Regions from separate parts of the Homo sapiens genome. Here region 1 is linked to region 2. A link means that fine-mapping ties the variant in region 2 to the expression of a gene that starts in the linked region. Tissue or cell type: whole blood. Region 2 holds a variant in brackets; the other region holds the start of a gene. All regions are shown on one strand. Distances are between the middles of the regions.

Region 1 (7,875 bases), 110 kb before region 2:
ATAGGAGTCCCTATCCTCATGGAATTTACAGCCTGGTAGAGGATATGGACAAAGAAATAGGCAATTACAATGCAGTGAGGTTAATGCTATGACAGTGGGAGTACACGATGCTATGGGAACAGGAAGCAGGGATACCTAACTCAAGCTAGACTTTTCAAAGGAGGTGATGTGAAAGATGAGTAGGAGTCAACCAGTTAAAGAAGAATGGAGTGTTCAAATGTCTCAGGAAGTACAAACTGTATTTGCACAGGAGAGTATGAAAAGACCAAGGGAGCTGCAGGAGTAGGGAGGAGAAATAAACCTAGAGAAAGAAGCAAGGACCAAATATACAGGTCCTTGACAGCCAGGGCTTTACATCCTTTTCTATTAGCATTTCCTGGTGAACTTCAAAACAAACAAAACAAAACACAGATAACTGGGATCCATCTCAGACCAATTAAATGAGCATCTCTGGGGATGAGACCAGAGTACTTTTAAAAAGCTCCCTAGATTATTCTAATGTGTAGCCAGGATTGAAAACCACTGTTCATGATGTAAAGGAAATTAAATAAAGATATTACTGCAAATATAGGAAATGGAGATCTTCAGTAATTAAGCCTCCTTGGGCCCTAATTTCTTCAGTTCTATTAAAAAACAGGCTGGAGATTAGACGCAGCATGATACAGTGAAAGGAGTCGGAAAATGTTGGTTTTGTCAATGAGTCTGTCACCTGCCAACTGACTTCAGATTAGAATACCATTTCTTAGGGATAGTAATACCACTCTGTCTACGGCACTGTTAATATAGCTCAAGGTAATACTTAAGAAAAACTATTTGATAACTGTGCTAATAAAATGTAAACCATGATATTCTAAGACATATACTTCTAAAGCTGAATAATTTTTAAGATTGTAAATACTTTCACTGGAGATGAAATATTTTATAATGCTTAAGAAACACTTCATTTAAAGAATCACCCCTATCTTGGAATTCAAGATATAAAATAACAAAATAGAGAACTGATCCTTTTAATGCTACTGTAGCTGCTCAAGAGATCAAATGGGATTAAGTTACCTCTCTTCAAATAAACAGATCAACAGAGCAAGTGCCCTTTAAATGGTAATCGTAACTGTTTAAAACTCTTTATTCAGTAAAGGGTACTTATAAGAAGCGGCACACAAAGTAAACTGGTTTAGAGAAAAAGTTATTACAGTCTACTTTATGTTGTGCATTATTTATAAGTTTGGGTTTTTTCTTTGGTTTTTTAAGGGGATACTGATTTGGGATGGAGAGGACCTTATCCTGACAGGAAGGAAGCTCTGCCACCAGAAAGGCTGTTCCACGCACAGAGCAAGCAAAACCACTGCACTTTTAGTCTCCCTTTTAAATATATCAAGGCCCATGACAATTTACACTTCCATGAAGCCATTTTTCAGTTTAAGTACAATATTTGTATTTAGTAACATCTCTTTAATGCTATAACCAATTTAGTTAAATTTTTTTAACCTTAAATAAAAACACTCTTCTATATTTACAGGTGTTTCATTTTTAATTATTTAAAACTGACAGGAATGTCTTTAAAACTTTATACGCACAATCATGCAATATTAATATTCCTTTACTTTCTTGTTATTTCCCCCATGATGCTATTATTACGATATGCTATCATTTTTAAATAAACTATTTTGTGATTTTAATAGGAAAGTACTCTAGTTTGAAAAAGCACAAGAAACTTTTGAAAAAAGCTATGAAGTTTTATTTTGTCCCAAAATGTGAGATGAAAAAACTTAAGCAAAATACCAACACACACACACACACACACACACACACACACGTAAACACACACAGTCCTCTTCAGATAATTTTGGCTGATGACACTGCAGAACAGTTAATCTGATAATTAAAAATTTCCAGAACATGTGATGTTTAGATGGAGATCTATGCTGTCAATCGGACCTCAGTGCTTCAGTTAAAAGGAAAAAAAAAAAACACCAAAAACTTAAAACCTGAATACAAAGACACGTTAAATTGTTAAGACTGTAGTTGCTTTGAAAGCAAAGTGTTTTGATTTATCCAAACTAACTTAGCAACACGGTATTTTGAGTATTTTCCAGAAGTTTTCTTAAAACACGCAATCCAGCACATAAACAAATTTTGTACGGTGCAATGTAAGCAAATACTCAGAAAAATTCAATTTCTAAGCAGGATAACATATGACCAATATTGCCCTCAGTGGTTCAAAAGTCGCAGTAGAAATAATCCCCTGAGATAACCTGGAATTTACCTACCCAAGTATTCTAAGGGGTTCTCCCCGGCCACACAAACTATGATTCAAAACATCGTTCCGAAAACCCAGGTCCTGCATGTGCACAAAGGCGCAGTGCTGGAATGAGGAAGCTTCACCAAGATGAAATCACAACTCTAATTCATTAAAGAATATGCAGACTGTTTTCTAGAAAGACCCTCTTGTTGCGCTCCCTTTACCCTACCCTTTATTTAACCATGTAAACAGTCTCAATTATTGACATAAAAAAATAGCTTTCGATTCCCAAGTCTGGTAACACGGTTGGCCACCATCACTATTCCTTTAGCATCCTAAAATAAACCCCTCGAGCCGAGGTCAAAAACACGCCGGCTGAACGTCTGGTGTTTACATAGCCCAATCCCGGGCCCTACCCTACCTTTCCGAGCCACTTAAGAGCCATGGAACAGGCATCACATAATACACTTAGTAAAGAGACAAGTCACATGAGTCAGTGTCTCAGGTCTATGAATGAAAGATCTAAGCGTTTGTCTCAGCTAAAAGGAAAAAACAACCTCGAAAGGAAGGGTGGGAGGGGAGCTGGCGGGGGTGAGGGGAGCGGTGTTCCTTCCATACCCCTGCCGGGCGATTTAAACCCAGTAAGAGGCAAACGCAGGGCCGCCAGGCTGGCGGGGCCGGAGTCCTCGGGCGTGACAGCCCCTCAAGAAAAGCTCGCGGTTTCGCGCCCGCGTCCCTTGAGCCGCAGTCCTCGCGGCAGCCCCTCCACCCGCGGGCTGGGTGGGCGTGCAGGGCGCGGGAGACAGAGCCACCGCGGCCGGGGCGGCGGCCCTGGGCGCACTTCCTCAACCTCCAGCCGCCCCGTCCCCAAAACTGGGAGTAGAAGCAAAGGAAGAGCGAGGCGGCAGCCAGAGAGAAAGGAGAGGGAGCGGCGAGCCCTCGCCTCTGCAGCTAGGAGAGGCCAGAGGCAGGCGAGGGAGAGGGTGCGGCGATCGCAGGCGAACTCCGCCGCGGGCCGACGCTGGGAGACGACCAGCCCGTAGCCTCCGCCCAACACGGCGGGCGCGCCCGGGAGTCTCCGGCACCCACCCGGTCCCCATTCCCACCGCACCCGCTACCGGCCAGTCCGCGCTCTACTCACGCTCGGGGCTCTTCCAGGCTCCGCGGCTCTAACCGCATCGGGTCCCAGCCCCGCGGGCGGCGGCGGCGGCGCCGAGGGAGAGGAGAGCGGGCGGCACGGCCCCCGCCTCCCGGCCCCTCTCCCCCGCCGCTCCGGAGCTGCCCGGCCGGGCCCGAGCCCTGCCTCGCCGGCGGCCCCAGCCCCAGTCCCAGCGGCCGCGGCAGCAGCAGCCCGACACCTCAGCGGCCGCAGCGGCGGCACCGGAACTGCCGCTTTCTACTTCTCGCTCCCTCTCCTCGCTAGCCCCCGCCACACGCCCCCGCCCCCGACTCCTTTCTCCGTCGCCCCTGTTTTTTTTTCCTTTTGTTTCCAGAATAAACTTTATTGGTCTCTTTTTCCGCTCACATCGTGTAAACAAACAACGAACTCTTCCCCACCCCCTCGGCCCCCCCCCTCCTCCGGCAGAAGAGGGTAAGAGCTGAGGAGGGGCAGAGCCTACAATCCCCCGGAAGCAGATGCGCAAAGAAGCGGAAGCGAAATTGAGGCGAGGAGGAGCAGGGAGTGGGCAAATAGGGTAACAATATGTGCTACTGCGCCTGCGTCTTGCTTTTCCGCCCGAAGTTTATGTACAGTTGGGGCTGCTCTTCTGACGTTTGTTTAATGATCCGTCTTCTGCAGTAGTGAGGGTGTTGTGTCATCCTAGGACAGCGTACGTGTAGTATATTTGTTTCTACGAGCAGCAGGCGAGCTGGGGTAGAGATATAGAAAGGAATATTGGGAGCAAGTGGGTTATTTCACTTTTACACCCATAGAGGAAACGAGATTAGTTCGGGGGTGAGAGGAGGTGCGGTGGCTAACCGCCGCTGTCAGTGGCTAACCAGCGTGGTTATGGATTCTATAATAGAAAGAATGCTTTTTACAAAGCGTTGCTGTGCGTTCTTCTGCCGACATGGTTTAAGTTGTATACCATCCCGAAGGCGGAATGCACTGTCACAGCCCTCTGCAGTCCTTTGACTCACTTCGTGGAGACCTTTTGCTATGCCCTCATTTTTTTTTTTAAATCGAATTCTGATTCGAAGCAGCTTGTAGGATTCAATTCTAACTATTCAGAAGACGTGGGGGATTTTTCGCGTAATGCCAACAGAGACTTCAGAAATGTCATATAGGCTATAGATTTGATTCAAGGTAGTGTCTTGGTGCTGCGTACCTTAGAAGTCTGTTTGCTTGAGAGTAAATCAATCTGTTGACTTTTGAGATTACTACTGATAAGGGTTCGGTACTGTGCGTTTTTCTCCCCCTACTGGTCTTTTGTTGTAATATTGGAAAAGCGTAGGAGCAGTGATTAGAAGTCTGAGATACAAGTACTCCAGCATCGGTTCCTCCTTGAATTTTTAAGTAATAGAGGGCTTGGGAAGTGACCCATCCTAGAGATGTTACAGTCCTACTTGTCCTCTAGAGCAAAACTCTGACCAATAACAGTCTTCTCGAACACCGCACGTCCGTCCATACCCCAATGGTAAATGAGATGGATCTGTTCCTCTTTGTGGTCGTAGTTTCACTTGACTGTATTTCTTTCTTTTCTGTGTTTTCTTTCTTTCGTCCTTTTTCTCCCTTTAGCTCGGATTTTCATCTCACATTCCAGGGGTTTGTGTTTCTAAATGTTTTTCTCGAACCAATGTTCTTCAACAGTTTTAGAACACTGTTACTCCAGAGTACAGATTTTTTTAAAAAAGGAACACTGAATTGCTAGTCAAAGTAAATTTTAAGGCAATATATCCCAAATTGTGTTTCAAGCACAGAGTTATATGAGATATTAATAGGTAGACCTTGGTGGGGAAAAATATACTAGGGATATTTTTCCTTATAAAATTTATTATTTATTTATTATTATTATTTTTTTGAGCCAGAGTCTCACTCTGTAGCCCAGGCTGGAGTTCAGCGGTGCAGTCTCGGCTCACTGCAGCCTCTGCCTCCCGGGTTCAAGCGATTCTTCTGCCTCAGCCTCCCGAGTAGCTGGGATTACAGGCACCAGCCAACATGCCAGCTAATTTTTGTATTTCTTAGTAGAGACGGGGTTTCACCATGTTGGTCAGGCTGGTCTCAAACTTCTGACTTCAGGTGATCCACCCCCCTCGACTTCCCAGAGTGCTAGGATTACAGGCGTAAGCCACCGCACCTGGCCTATTTGTGATTTTTAAAAATGTTTTATTTTTTGTAAAGACAGGGTCTTGCTTCGTTGCCCAGACTGGTCTCCAACTCCTGGGCTCAAGAGATTCATCTACCTCGGCCTCCCAAAGTGTTGGGATTACAGACTTCAGCCGACATGCCCAGCCTAAAATTTATTTTTTAATAAGAAAATGCTAATTACATAATATGTTTTTTGTTATGTGATTATCTGCCCCTAAGAAGTTGTGTGTCATAGCAGAAAAAGCCATACCTGGTACTTGAATGCATGACACCATTCATTGGTACAGGAGTAGCATTTACTATTCAATTCACGGTTGATAATGTTTGCCTTATATGTAAGCCATTGGTCTTAGGTGTCATCTTGCTTTCAAAGGTTTTTGCAATGTTATTCAGTGTTTAAAATATCTATATGATATAAAAATATCTGTATGATATAAGCATCTATATGACCAAACTCATCACTCAAGGATTAGGAGCTGAAAGAAGGTTTTAAAAAAATAATGATTCTCAGGCTGTAAATGAAACAAAAAATGGTATACTTCAAAATTAAATAATTGCATCCTAAGGGTTCTAAAGACGGGAGGTGAAATGTCCAGTATGTAGCTATTGTTCTATTCTAATAATCAGAATTATAATGACAGTTACTTGCCTTTTGGGTTTATTTCCATTGAAAATCATAACTGATACTCAAATATGCACCGAAACATTCTCTAATAGCGCTTAAGTCACTACTAAGCTTTGAAGTCCTTTGTAAATAAGAGTCAAGTTGATTATGTAGCAGTATACTTTAGATGTATAAAATTGCCAAGTCAAACAATAAAAACACACCAAGAGATAACGATATGAGTTACCATGTAGCACTGTTTTTTTTTTTTTTTTTTTTTTTTTGAGATGGAGTCTCGCTCTGTCACCCAGGCTGGAGTGCAGTGGCGCGATCTTGGCTCACTGCAACCTCTGCCTCCCAGGTTCAAGTGATTCTCCTGCCTCAGCCTTCCGAGTAGCTGGGACTACAGGCACGTGCCACCACGCCCGGCTAATTTTTGTATTTTTAGTAGAGACGGGGTTTCACCATATTGGTCAGGCTGGTCTTGAACTCCTGACCTCATGATCCGCCCGCCTTGGCCTCCCAAAGTGCTGAGATTACAGGTGTGAGCCACCACGCCTGACCGAGACTCCATCTTAAAAAAAAAAAAACCATACACCCACACACACATACACACACGTACTTTTAAGATTTCAGTTCTTTTCAAGTTAAGATTTGTGTTGCCCCAGAATATCTTGGTGAATGTCCCATGTGCACTTATGAAAGAATATTTTGTTTGCTATTGTTGGGCAGAATGTAGTTTCTTACCAAGTTGATGATTTTGTTAGCATTGATGTTTCAAAATATAATTGTGGATTTCTTTATTTCTCATTTCACTTCTGTGTATTTTTACTTTGTGTGTTTTGAAGCTTTGTTGTTAGATGTATACACATTTAGAACTCTTGTGTTTTGATACATTGACTCTTTTTAATCAATCTGTACTATCTCTCTTTATTCCTAGTAATATCTTTGTTCTGAAATCTACTTTGTCTGATATTAATACAGCCAGTCCAGCTTTTTTTGATTAATTTTTCCATGGTATTTTTTCCCATCTTTTTTATATCTATTTTTATATTTAAAGTGAGTTACTCGTAGACAACACGTATTAGATCTCTTTTTAAAAATTCCAATCTGACAATTTCTGTGTTTTAATTGCTGTGTTTAATTTACATTTAATGTAATTATATGGATTTAGGCTTGCCATTTTATTATTTGTTTTCTGTTTTTCCTCTATACTTTTGTTTTTATGTTTCTACTTTCCTGCTTTCTTGTGGATTATTTGAAAAATTTTTAATATTCCATTTTAATTTCTATATTGTAGTTTTAATATATTTCTTGGTAATTTTTTGGTAATTCTATGGATTATAATATACATACCTAAAGTTTTGCGGTCTACTTAGTATTACTATTACACCACTTCAAGTAAAATGTAGAAAGAAGCCTTGCAACCGTGTAGATTTACCACTGTCTCCTACCCCACTCCCTGACCTTTATGTCATTAGTTGGCATATGTATTACATTTATATATATGGAAGCCCCATCAGATGTTTTTATAATTTTTGCTTTCAACAGTCATATAGAACTCAAGAGGAAAAATAATCTTTTATATTTACGTATCCATTTACATTTATGTTTTGCTTCATTCCTGAAAATCCATTTTTCCTTCTGGTATAATTTCCCTTTATCCTGAAGAATTTTAACATTCTTTTTAGAGAAAGTCTGCTTGTGACAAATTCCCTTCATTTT
Region 2 (7,875 bases):
AGCAGGGACAATTTGACTTCCTCTTCTCCTAATTGAATACCCTTTATTTCTTTCTCTTGCCTGATTGCCCTGGCCAGAACTTCCAACACTATGTTGAATAGGAGTGGTGAGAGAGGGCATCCTTGTCTTGTGCCAGTTTTCAAAGAGAATGCTTCCAGTTTTTGCCCATTCAGTGTGATATTGGCTGTGGGTTTGTCATAAATAGCTCTTATTATTTTGAGATACGTTCCATCAATACCTAATTTATTGAGAGTTTTTGGCATGAAGGCTGTTGAGTTTTGTCAAAGGCCTTTTCTGCCTCTATTGAGATAATCATGTGGTTTTTGTCATTGGTTCTGTTTATGTGATGGATTATGTTTTTTGATTTGTGTATGTTGAACCAGCCTTGCATCCCAGGGATGAAGCTGACCTGATCATGGTGGATAAGCTTTTTGATACGCTGCTGGATTCGGTTTGCCAGTATTTTATTGAGGATTTTCGCATCCATGTTTATCAGGGATATTGGTCTAAAGTTCTCTGGTTTTTGTTGTATCTCTTCCAGGCTTTGGTGTCGGGATGATGTTGGCCTCATAAAATGAGTTCCCTCTTTTTATTGATTGGAATAGTTTCAGAAGGAATGGTACCAGCTCCTCTTTGTACCTCTGGTAGAATTCGGCTGTGAATCTGTCTGGCCCTGGACTTTTTTTGATTGGTAGGCTATTAATTATTGCCTCAATTTCAGAGCCTGTTACTGGTCTATTCAGAGATTCAACTTCTTCCTGGATTAGTCTTGGGAGGGTGTATGTGCCCAGGAGTTTATCCATTTCTTCTAGATTTTCTAGTTCGTTTGCGTAGAGGTGTTTATAGTATTCACTGATGGTAGTTTGTATTTCTGTGGGATCGGTGGTGACATCCCCTTTATCATTTTTTTATTGCATCTATTTGATTCTTCTCTCTTTTCTTCTTTATTAGTCTTGCTAGTGGTCTCTCAATTTTGTTGATCTTTTAAAAAAAACAGCTCCTGGATTCAGTGATTTTTTGAAGGGATTTTTGTGTGTCTGTCTCTTTCAGTTCTGCTCTGATCTTAGTTATTTCTTGCCTTCTGCTAGCCTTTGAATTTGTTTGCTCTTACTTCTCTAGTTCTTTTAATTGTAATGTTAGGGTGTCAATTTTAGATCTTTCCTGCTTTCTCTTGTGGGCATTTAGTGCTATAAATTTCCCTCTACCACACTGCTTTAAATGTGTCCCAGAGACTCTGGTACGTTGAGTTTTTGTTCTCATTTGTTTCAAAGAACATCTTTATTTCTGCCTTCATTTCGTTATTTACCCAGTAGTCATTCAGGAGCAAGTTGTTCAGTTTCCATGTAGTTGTGCAGTTTTGAGTGAGTTTCTTAATCCTGAGTTCTAATTTGATTGCACTGTGGTCTGAGATGCAGTTTGTTGTGATTTCTGTTCTTTTACATTTGCTGAGGAATACTTTACTTCCAATTATGTGGTCAATTTTAGAATAAGTGTGATGTGGTGCTGAGAAGAATGTATATTATGTTGATTTGGGGTGGAGAGTTCTGTAGATACCTATTAGGTCTGCTTGGTGCAGAGCTGAGTTCAAGTCCTGTATATGCTTGTTAACCTTGTGTCTCATTAATCTGTCTAATATTGACAGTGGGATGTTAAAGTCTCCTATTATTATTGTGTGGGAGTCTAAGTCTCTTTGTGGGTCTCTGAGGACTTGCTTTATGAATCTGGGTGCTCCTGTATTGGGTGCATATATATTTAGGATAGTTAGCTCTTCTCATTGAATTGATCCCTTTACCATTATGTAATGCCCTTCTTTGTCTCTTTTGATCTTTGTTGATTTAAAGTCTGTTTTATCGGAGAGTAGGATTGTTACCCCTGCTTTTTTTTTTTTTTTGCTTTCCATTTGCTTGGTAGATCTTCCTCCATCCCTTTATTTTGAGCCTCTGTGTGTCTTTGCACATGAGATGGGTCTCCTGAATACAGCACACTGATGGGTTGTGACTCTTTATCCAATTTGCCAGTCTGTGTCTTTTAATTGGGGCATTTAGCTCATTTACATTTAAGGTTAGTATTGTTATGTGTGAATTTGATCCTGTCATGATGTTTGCTGGTTGTTTTGCCCATTAATTGATGCAGTTTTTTCATAGCATCGATGGTCTTTATAATTTGGCAGTTTTTGCAGTGGTTGTTACCGGTTGTTTCTATGTTTAGTGCTTCCTTCAGGAACTCTTGTAAGGCAGGCCTGGTGGTGACAAAATCTCTCAGCATTTGCTTGTCTGTAAAGGATTTCATTTCTCCTTCACTTATGAAGCTTAGTTTGGCTGGATATGAAATTCTGGGTTGAAAATTCTTTTCTTTAAGGAAGTTGAATATCGGCCCCCACTCTTTTCTGGCTTGTAGGGTTTCTGCCGAGAGATCCGCTGTTAGTCTGATGGGTTTCCCTTTGTGGGTAACTCGACCTTTCTCTCTGGCTGCCCTTAACATTTTTTCCTTCATTTCAACCGTGGTGAATGTGACAATTACATGTCTTGGGGTTGCTCTTCCCAAGGAGTATCTTTGTGGCATTCCCTGTATTTCCTGAATTTGAATGTTGGCCTGCCTTGCTAGGTTGGGGAAGTTCTCCTGGATAATATCCTGAAGAGTGTTTTCCAACTTGGTTCCATTCTCCCTATCACTTTCAGGTACACCAATCAAACGTAGATTTGGTCTTTTCACATAGTCCCATATTTCTTGGAGGCTTTGTTCATTTCTTTTTACTCTTTTTTTCTAACCATGTCTTCTTGCTTTATTTCATTAATTAATTTGATCTTCAATCACTGATACCCTTTCTTCCACTAGATCGAATTGGCTATTGAAGCTTGTGCATGTGTCACGAAGTTCCCATGCCATGGTTTTCAGCTCCATCAGTCATTTAAGGTCTTCTCTACAGTGTTTATTCTAGTTAGCCATTCGTCTAACCTTTTTTCAAGGTTTTTAGCTTCCTTGCGATGGGTTCGAACATGCTCCTTTAGCTTGGAGAAGTTTGTTATTACTGACCTTCTGAAGTCTACTTCTGTCACCTCGTCAGAGTCATTCTTTGTCCAGCTTTGTTCCATTGCTGGTGAGGAACTATGATCCTTTGGAGAGGAGGCACTCTGATTTTTAGAATTTTCAGCTTTTCTGCTCTGGTTTCTCCCCATCTTTTTGGTTTTATCTACCTTTGGTCTTTGATGTTGGTGACCTACAGATGGGGTTTTGGTGTAGACGTTCTTTTTGTTGATGTTGATGCTATTCCTTTCTGTTTGTTAGTTTTCCTTCTAATAGGTCCCTCAGCTGCAGGTCTGTTGGAGTTTGCTGGAGGTCCACTCCAGACCCGGTTTGCCTGGGTATCACCAGCGGAGGCTGCAGAACAGCAAATATTGCAGAACAGCAAATATTGCTGCCTGATCCTTCCTCCGGAATCTGCATCCCAGAGGGGCACCCATCTATATGAGGTGACTGTTGGCCCTTACTGGGACGTGTCTCCCAGTTAGGCTACATGGAGGTCAAGGAGCCACTTGAAGAGGCAGTCTGTCCATTCTCAGAGCTCAAACACCATGTTGGGAGAACCACTGCTCTCTTCAGAGCTGTCAGAAAGGGACATTGAACTTTGCAGAAGTTGTCTGCTGCCTTTTGTTCAGCTAAGCCCTGCCCACTGAGGTGGAGTCTGGAGGCAGTAGGCCTTGTTGAGCTGTGGTGGGCTCTGCCCAGTTCGAGCTTCCCAGCCACTTTGTTTACCTACTCAAGCCTCAGCAATGGCTGAGGCCCCTCCCCCAGCCAGGCTGCTGCCTTGCAGTTTGATCTCAGACTGCTGCGCTAGCAGTGAGTGAGGCTCTGTGGACGTGGGACCTGCCAAGCCAGGCACGGGAGAGTATCTCCTTGTTTTCCGGTTGCTAAGACCTTGGGAAAAGCGCAGTATTTGGGCAGAAGTGTCCTGTTTTTCCAGGTGCAGTCCGTCACGGCTTCTCTTGGCTAGGAAAGGGAAATCCCCTGACCTCTTGGCTTCCCGGTTGAGGTAACACCCCACCCTGCTTCAGTTCGTCCTCTGTGGGCTGCACCCACTGTACAACCAGTCCCAGTGAGGTGAACCAGGTACCTCAGTTCAAAATG[C/T]GGATATCACCCGTCTGCTGCATTGATCACGCTGGGAGCTGCAGACCAGAGCTGTTCCTATTTGGCCATCTTGTATTTTATTTTATTTTTTGAGACAGGGTCTCGCTCTGTCACCCAGCTGGAGTGTAGCATTGCAGTCATGGCTCACTGCAACCTCAACCTTCTGGGTTTAACTGATCCTTCCATCTCAGTGCTCCCAGCAGCTGGGACCATAGGTTTGCACCACCATGCCTGCCTCATTTTTCTTTTTTTAGAGATGGGGTTTTGTCATTTTGCCCAGTTTGGTCTCAAAGTCTTAGACTCAAGTGATCCTTCTGCCTCAGCCTCCCAAAGTGCTGGGATTATAGGCATGAGCCACTGTGCCTGGCCCTAGTTCCATGGTTTTAAATTCCACCTACATACTGATAACTCCTCAGATTCTATCTCTAACCTGACCTCGTTCGTAAACTCCAGGTTGGTCTCTCTTTGGACATCTGAAAGGGATCTCAGACTTAACACAGCAAGTGGGTCTCTTGATGCCCAGCTCTTCCCCCTTTCTCTACATTGCATGGCTGGAGCCATCTCATGCTTCAGCTTTTAGCTGACATGTATCTCCCCAGAAAAGCCTTGTCGGCCCACCCCACTCTCTCCCTGTCCATTATCTATTATATCATCCTGTTTTATTTTTTGCAGAGCAGTTGTCAGTAACTCTTTTTTCTTTGGTTGTGTGTGTGTACATATATATATGTACATGTATATATTCTGTTTATGTCCCCTAGAAAAGCTTCTTGAGGGCAGAGACTTTGCCTTTGTTCACTGTTTTATCTCCTTTTCTTAGAATGGTTGCCAGAACATAGAGGGTAGTCAGTAACTATTTAACCCTGTTATCTTCCGCCAGAGTTGTAGATTCAAATTCTCACCTGTTTTTAGAAGACTTCTAAACCTTCTTAGCCTTGACTTCCTTAGTGCTAATGTTGCAGCTTTTGTAGTTCAGCAAGCGGGAGGAAATGGCACACTGGCTTTTTTTCCCCGTTGCTCAGTGAGCAGGAGGGAGGGTTGCAGTGTAAGGATTCCTTTGGTGCTGCTTCACCAGCCGGAAATCTCTGTGGGTGCTGTGTCCTCTGCCTGGGGCCTCATTCCACCGAGCTCACTCCGCCCACTCAGCCTGGCAGGCTGTGCTCGGCTTGTGCCTTGGCCTGGATCCTGCGCCCGCTGAGGGATCTGCACTCAGCCCATGGCTCCACTGGGTGTGTTGCCAGCAGCTTCTGCATTGGGTGTCGTTGTCTAGATGAGGGGAATGTGGGTGGTGCCCGAAAACTCAGAGATGTCAGTAATGGCAGAGTCCCAAGGGGTGTTACAGCTCTCATCCGGGGAGTCCCAAGATTTGACCTCCCAAGAAATGTTGCAGCTTTGTATTGTTCCTGCCACCTGCAGCTTGGCGAACAGGGGCATGTTACAGCTCAGTCGGTCCCACCACCCGCAGCTCAGTGAATGGGTGTGTGTTACAGGTTGGCCTATTCTGGGTTCTTCTCCTGCGACCAAGAGGAATAAGAGGAATAAGGTACATGGACACTGGAGAGTGAATAGGGTGGAGAAGAATTTCATTGAGCAATAGAAGGAAAGCTCTCAGCAGAGAGGGGGCCCAAGAGTGATTAGCCCTGTGTGTGAGAGGGGACCCAAAAGAGGTTTGCCATCTGTGGGGTTGAGTCTGGGATTTTTATGGGCTCAGAATGGGGGAGTGCGTGCTGATTGGTTCACGGGTCGGCTTGGAAAAAGCACCATTTGATTGCCTAAAAGGCATCGAGGAAGTTCTCACTCTCGTTGTGGACTCCACCTGCAACTGGCAGCTCAGTTTTCAGTCTTTAAACTGTCTTTGGCATGAGGTTGGGTTTCACAGGGACCCATCCCTGTCTGCCTAGGAATTTGTCTGTCTCCAGTTGCTGTCACTAAGCCACACATTGCACTGTCTCTTGGATTCATTAAGATGTCTTTCGGTTGTCTCAATCTCATATTGAGATTGAGATTGTTGACTCTATCTTCTTCCCCAAAGCCTTTTTTCCTCCCCACACCTTTAAAAATTTTTCATAAATATTTCCATCTACCCTGCGGTTCACCTCCCTTCTACCCTCTTATCCAATATGCTATTACTTGTTCTTACCTTCTTCATAGTTCCTGCGTCTTTCTCCTTTATCTAGCCATTATCTTGCTTGAGGCCCATTTTGCAAGCTGTTATCTGTCTCCACTCTGTCTAGGTGATAGTTTTTGGCTCCATAGCTTTAAATACCATCCACATTCAGATCATTCCTGAGAGTCTGTCTTCATCCTGACCACACTCTTGAACTCCAGTTTGGTTGTGGGCTTCTATGATAACATACTATCTGATTTTTATCTTACTTTTTGGCTAGACCTTGTCAATCTCATTTTCTGGATCTTCATTCTCTACTAGACTCTATGTTGTAGTGTCTAGGATTTTGTCCTTGACTCTCCTCTGTGTATCTTCCCAGCTTCCAGCTTTGGTCTGCTACCCTGATGCTCATCTTTATCAAATACAATCAAGTCATGCACTGCTTTGCTTAAAGTTCCTCAGAGGCTCCCTGCTGCCTCTGAAGTCCAAGTTCTTTATCATGGGCAAAGGCATTAAGAATGAGCCCCCTGTGTATTTCAATTTTTGCCTCTCCTCCAAAGGATCTAGAAGACCGTTATCTCTCCTTGTAGCCCCTCAACACAGAAGGCTGGGCTTTTGCTCATGCTATTTTCTTGGTGCACAGTTTTCTTTTTCCGTATTGCTTACCTCCCCTGTAAACATTTGCTCATTTAAAAAGATGAGTCAGTTGCCCCCTTTTCAGGGAAGTCTTCCGTGATACATTCAGGCAGGAGTAAGAAATTCCTTCTCTGTGTTCTCCTAGCAGTTTATTATCTTCATTATAATACTTGGTTCATTTATCCAACAGTTATTTATTGCTTGCTTGCTATATTCTGGAAACTATTCTAGGCATTGGGATTAGAACAGTAAACAAGACAGATGAGGTCCTCATTTTCAAGAAGTCTACATTACAGAGCGGAGGAAAGAGAAAAAAAAACAAGTCAACAAACTATATTATTTTAGATAGTGATTAGTGATACTAAGATAAAATAAAACCGGCCAGTGTGGTAATATGATGGAGTGTGTGTGGTGTGGAGAGGGGGAGTGGTTGTGACACTTGAGAGTGAGTGAGGTCCAGTTTGAGTTGAGACTTGAAAGATTAGAAGGAGCAATCCATACAGAGATCTGCAAGAGGTACATTCTAGGCAAAAGGAACAGTTAAGTACAAAGGCCTTGGAGCTAGCCTGAGCTTGGCATGTTTAAGGAGCACATGCAGCCTAGTGAGCCAGGAGCATAATGAGCAGGGGAAAGGAAGGAGTGCTGTCTGACATAAGGCCCAAGAGATAGACGGGGCCAGATCATGTAGGGCCTTATAGGTAAGATTTGTCAATTAGATGGGGCCAGAACATGTAGGGCCTTATAGGTGAGATTTGTCAGTTAGACAGGGCCAGATCGTGTAGGGCCTTATAGGTAAGATTTGTCAATTTTAAGTATAGCAGAAAGCCATTGGAAGAGTTTTATGTGAGGGAGTGACATGGAACTGATTCATGTCAAGAATTATTACTTGGGTTTATAATGAGGAGAATTCTAGGAGGACAAGATTAACAGCAGAGACCAATTAGGAGTTGTTACCTACTGCAAATGACCACTGTTACCTACTGCAAATGAAAAATGTTGGTACCTTGGAT

Evidence for each region. PIP is the estimated chance that this variant, and not a neighbour inherited with it, causes the effect.
Region 1: it holds the start of PIK3CA, and the variant in region 2 is fine-mapped to the expression of PIK3CA in whole blood (INTERVAL, PIP 0.95).

Annotation. Positions count from the first base shown.
Region 1 is chr3:179,144,109-179,151,983 of GRCh38, reverse strand. It overlaps PIK3CA (phosphatidylinositol-4,5-bisphosphate 3-kinase catalytic subunit alpha), which reads right to left and starts at 3,627. Exons shown (of 21, transcript NM_006218.4): 1 at 3,381-3,627. It overlaps PIK3CA-DT (PIK3CA divergent transcript), which reads left to right and starts at 4,011. Exons shown (of 3, transcript NR_125401.1): 1 at 4,011-4,068. RefSeq lists enhancers at 2,153-2,202, 2,764-3,263, 4,073-4,192, 4,803-4,912 and silencers at 3,003-3,052, 3,113-3,582.
Region 2 is chr3:179,034,918-179,042,792 of GRCh38, reverse strand. All of the region lies in intron 2 of ZMAT3 (zinc finger matrin-type 3), which reads left to right. Among named protein-coding and RNA genes, the nearest start is that of ZMAT3, 33 kb to the left of the region's middle. The variant C/T (reference allele first, on the strand shown) is at 4,126.